Linked DNA regions of Homo sapiens: region 2 is linked to region 1. A link means that fine-mapping ties the variant in region 1 to the expression of a gene that starts in the linked region. Tissue or cell type: blood mononuclear cells. Region 1 holds a variant in brackets; the other region holds the start of a gene. All regions are shown on one strand. Distances are from middle to middle.

What was found. PIP is the estimated chance that this variant, and not a neighbour inherited with it, causes the effect.
Region 2: it holds the start of EPS8, and the variant in region 1 is fine-mapped to the expression of EPS8 in blood mononuclear cells (TOPMed, PIP above 0.99). The same link has a PIP of 0.9 or more in monocytes and whole blood.

Annotation. Positions count from the first base shown.
Region 1 is chr12:15,702,154-15,705,005 of GRCh38, forward strand. The region is part of intron 1 of EPS8 (EGFR pathway substrate 8, signaling adaptor); the gene reads right to left. Among named protein-coding and RNA genes, the nearest start is that of EPS8, 86 kb to the right of the region's middle. The variant T/G (reference allele first, on the strand shown) is at 1,426.
Region 2 is chr12:15,787,866-15,790,365 of GRCh38, forward strand. It overlaps EPS8 (EGFR pathway substrate 8, signaling adaptor), which reads right to left and starts at 1,523. Exons shown (of 21, transcript NM_004447.6): 1 at 1,296-1,523. RefSeq lists silencers at 591-670, 1,001-1,120, 1,381-1,730.

The DNA of each region.
Region 1 (2,852 bases):
AGGGCAAAGTGCTTAGAGCAGCAGCCTAAGGAAACAGAATATATTCCCCCTGTTAACACCACTCTGGAGATGCTAAAGATTCAGAGGTGCTCTTGGAAGCCTGCCTGTCCAGTGTGATTTTAGGGTTGAGAGAGTATCATCCTATTTCCTTAAAATCTATCGTTTACACAGGCGACAAGGTGAATAAAATTCTAGCACTGGAAATTAATTCATTCTTTTGAGTTAAGCATTTTCATCCATAGGAAGCACTTTTAAACTACAAACACTTCTGGGAGTAATAATGTATTATGTCATTAACATTTAAGTGTGGATTATGAGATACTTTCTCCTAGGATAAGAGGACTCTGGGGTAATGTATGAATGTCTATGAGATCAGTGTCTGGAAATCTTCATAGAGCAGCAGCAAACTACTGAAGAAAAAAAATGCATGCTTAATGTTTTTACCTATCTCTAAAACATATATCCAGTATATTAAATATGAAGAAAAAAATTGCATGCCTAATATTTTTACCTATATCCAAAACACATATCCAATACAATATATAAATATGAAGAAAAAAATTGCATGCTTAATATTTTACCTATATCCAATACATATATATCCAGTATATTAATAATAGTGAAATTATGAAAGGAATTCTAGCTTATGCACGTAATGGTTATTAAAGGTAAACATTCAATAGAGTGAGCAAAACCACATAATAAGTTCATTCGAGGCTGGGCGCGGTGGCTCAGGCCTTTAATCCCAGCACTTTGGGAGGCCGAGGTGGGTGGATCACAAGGTCAGGAGATTGAGACCATCCTGGCCAACATAGTGAAACCCCATCTCCACTAAAAATACAAAAATTAGCTGGGTGCAGTGGCGTGTGCCTGTAGTCCCAGCTACTCGGGAGGCTGAGCCACAAGAATCGCTTGAACCCAAGAGGTGGAAGTTGCAGTGAGCCAAGATCACGCCACTGCACTCCAGCCTGGTGATGGAGCGAGACTCCGTCTCAAAAAATAAATAAAAATAAAAATAAATAAAGAAAAATAAGTTCATTTGGTATTTTTTGGACATTTATGCCTACAAGGTATTGTGCTTTGCATGATGACATATAATAAACATACTTTCTCTCCTCTGGGAACATTCAGTTCAGCAAGATGGATAGATATACAAACAGATAATTACAATGCATTTTAGTAAATGTTATTACTGTATGAACAATGTACTAGGAAAGTGTCTACCTATGGAAGCTGCTTGTAGGTTTCATATAGGAAGAGACAGTAACATCAGGTCTTGAAAGACAGTGAGGAGTGCACCAGTTGGTACAGGTACAGGTAATTAGAGAACATTCCAGACATATACAAAGGATATGGAAGGACATGAATTTCAGGGAATAGTGAGATATTCAGTGTGGCTGCAATACAGAATATATGAAAAGAAGA[T/G]GTGATGAAGAAAAGCTTGATGCCAGATTGTGAGGGGCCTTGTAGAGCATATAAAGGAATTTGGACTTAATCTTTTAGGAGATGGTAAGGAGTAACAATCATATTACTAATGTTTAAGAAAATAACTATGCAGGCATTCTGGAAGGCAGACTAGATCAGAGAACGAAGTTGACACTTTCAGGAAGCAAAGTTGATTATTTGAGATAATTGTATCTGTCTCTTTCATTTCTATAGGAATCTTCCCACCTGTATTCTGCTCTATGTATTTGTTTTTTTTTTTTTTTTTTTTTTTGGAAAAACTTAGACTCACCTTTGTTATTCCCCTAATGTCTCCAAACTCCGTAATTATCCAAAGAGAAACCGATATATTAATTTTAAATCTGCCCACCACTTACCTCTAAGGACAGAGACCACACTTCCTAGAATTATTAGTTACACAAGAAATCCAATGAAGCTATCTTCATCCTATTTTAGAAAGTTCATTGTAAAATTCCAAAGACTGTAAGAATAGAGGGTTTTCCTGCTGGGTTTTTTTGTTCGTTCATTTAAAATATCCCTTTAATGGTGTAGTCATTGTGGAAAACAGTATGGCAGCTCCTCAAAAAAATCAAGCATAGAATTACTATATGATCCAGCAGTTCTTCTTCTGGGTGTATACCCAAAAGAACTGAAAGTAGAGACTAGATATTTGTACACCCATGCTCATATCAACATTATTCACGAGAGCCAAAAGGTAGATGCAACCCAAGTGTTGTCCATTCACAGATGAATAAGTAAAATATCATACATCTACATAAGGGAATTATTTATCCTTTAAAAGGAAACAGACATCTCTCATACATACTACAACATGGATGAACCCTGAAGCCATTACACTAAGTAAAATAAGCCAGTCACAAAAGGACAAATACTCTATGATTCTCCTTAAATGAAGAACTTGGAATAGTCAAATTCAAAGACACAGAAAGCATAATGGTGGCTGCCAGGGGCTGTGGAAGGTGGAGAATGGGTAGTTATTGTTTTGGGGCACAGAGATTCCATTCAGGAAGATGAAAAACTCCTAGAGATGGATGGTCATGATGGCTGCACAACAATGTGAATACACTTAATGACAATAAACTATACATTTAAAGATGGTTAAGTTGGTAAATTTAATATCAACTTTATCACAATAATTAGAGAAATCTGAGGAACAAATGAACTACTGAATGTCTGTGAGCCTATCAGGTAAAGCCACCTGGTCTGTAAGGCAAAGACTAGATCTTATTGTAGCTGCCTCTGTTATGGGGATGTACTAGAAGATTAACAATTTCCTTGGCATGCGTGCGCATGCACACACACACACAAAAAACTGTCCTTAAAATCCTGTGTGTATATACACACACACATACATATACATGTGTGTATATTTTTTAAAATTTGAAGTA
Region 2 (2,500 bases), 86 kb after region 1:
AGAACTACAGCAATATGTTTAGAAAACTGCGATCCCAAACAAAAAATCTATACTAGGTGAGACAGGATGACATTGACTTTAATTCCAATAGACTCACTACCACATGACGTCCATTACTAGTGCTCACTTTCCAGAACCCAAGGAGCTGTGGAAGAATGGAGTCCTTTCAATGAAAATAAACTAGAGGCAATACACAACACAGTTACTTTGAGGGGCTTTTTCAATATAAAGAAGATTGCCCGGAATCCTAACTCTCCTATTTCCCAAAAATGACAAAGCCAAAAAGTCACACTCTTCACACATCTGAAATCAAGTTTTACCTGAACTCATCCTAACATATTAGCTCTTTTACCTATTCCCCTTACTATCTAAGGCAAGAAACCTTGAAAAGAGAAGCAGTAACACATTTCACTGAAACATATTTTGTAAAGGAGGATTCTAATTCCTAATCCTTCACCGCTCTAGATGTCTGCGGATTTCAAATCCTAACCACGGCGTCCTGCCCCCCGCGAGATTCCAACAGTACTACGGGCCCTATGGGAGGAGGAGGATTTGAGAAACACTGCCGGAGAACGGTCGGTGCAAAGATTTTGCAAACAGGTAGTCCTAGGAAGGAAAGTAAGAGTGAGAACATCGGAGAGGGCAGGGAGTACATGGGTGGGGAAACCCCTTTCAAATGCATGAACTGACCACAACCGGAGAAAGGCCGTCTGTCTTCCCAAAAGTAAAATGGTGAGTAAAGTGGAGCAAGCTAAGAAAGTCAACAGCCATTAGGCATTGACAACGATTCCGAAACAATTAGCTATGTTAATTCGAGGGGGTAAACGGGGGTGGGACCCTGCCCTAAAGGGTCATTTTGAAAAGAACCCCTCCCCATTTGAGGCGGGTTGGCAGAGCAGCGCACAAATCCCAAGTCTAACGTAATAAGCCGAGATCGGGATACTCGGTCTGCAGTCGCCCCACGGACCAGATGAGCGCAGGTGTATCTGCGGAAGCTCAGGTTACCATGAATATCACTGGGCCACGGCGAACCCTCCCTGCCCAGCCTCCCGGAGCCCTGGGCGCGGGTCTGCACGGGCCCCACAGCTTGCCCGGACCCGGCGAGCGGACGCCTCCGGCCGCAGCGCCCTACCGCACCTGGCTGCCAACACCAGTTGAAAGCAGTCAAAGTGAAGGGAGGCGGACGCGGCTCCTGGCACCGCTCCGATTCCAGCACACAAAGGCGGATTTTTAAAATCGAGAAAGTCAAAGCCGCCGGACCCCGGGACCGGCGCCTTTCGCCAAGGGGCTCTTACCTCGGATCCGCCCTCGGGGCCACGGCTTTCCCCGGAGACGCCGCGAGCCCAGACGAGGTGGGAGGGGACCGGGAGAAAGCCCCCCAATCTGATTCGCGCCCAGCCAGTCGTCCGCGAGCCGCGGAGCCGCCTTCTGCACCCAGCTAAAGAGCAGCGATCTCCGAGGCGAGCACAGCGCCGGCCTCGCGCCGGGCGAGACCGCCTCGCTAGCTGCTGCCTGTGAAGTCTGGAGCCGCCCGCCCGCTCGCAGCCAGTGCCAACCGCGCGCCGCGCATGCCCAGTGCCCGCGCGAGGAACGAGCGAGCGGGCGGGCGGGCGAGTGCGCGCCCCGCAGCCAGGAGCGAAATCCGCTATCCGGGTCTTGCCGGCAGCCGAGCCGCAGAGTTCTGGTCGACTCCAGCGCTTGAGGCGAAGTGGCCGGTGAGGCCGGGTGGGCGGGAGAGGGACCGGAGGAAAGGAGACGGGGCGCTGCGCCAAGTTATCAAGGCCGCGATCAAAGTCGGACCAAGGCAGCGAGTCGACAGCAGGTTTCCAGAAGTGCCCTAACAGGACTGACTAGCAGCCAGGAGGCGCAGGAAGGGGCAAAGAGCGTGTGGAGAGCTTCGCCCCCGGCGAGGATGGACGCCCCGGGCGGAGGGAGCGCTCGGGTTGCAACACCCAGTCTGGCTGCACAGCTCGTAACCCCTGCCCTTTGGCGGCAAACAAGACGCATCTAATGACCAGCCAGCCTTCGTCTTCCTCCTCTGATCATCGGACCTATTTTCCCCCTTTTGTCGCTCTCCTCTTTTTTTGTCTCTCCAACCCATGCGGTAAACTGGTGGTGCCCAAGGCCCTCCATCGGGTCCCTGAGAGTCTCCCAACTGCCGGTCCTTAGCGCCAGCCTGCAAGCCCAGACCCGCCTCGCCAGGCTGCCTGTGAGCCTATTTTTCATGTAGCTCTTGCCAAAAGCCCTGATGTGGTTTGAAGTAGTGGAGGCTTCTTTCACTTTGTGCCTCTCGTACCTTAACCAACCCTCATAACCTCCTCTCTGAGTAGCTCATGGAGCCTCTAAAAGAGAAGTCCATGTTCTCATAGACATTGTGTTTTCTCACTCTTAAAACTCCTCATTGTCATAGCTACTCCCCCAATCCCCCCATGCTGTCCTAACTTCGAAGTCAGTTGACTTCCAGAAGTCCACGAAAGCCTATAAATTAAACTTGGTTAAA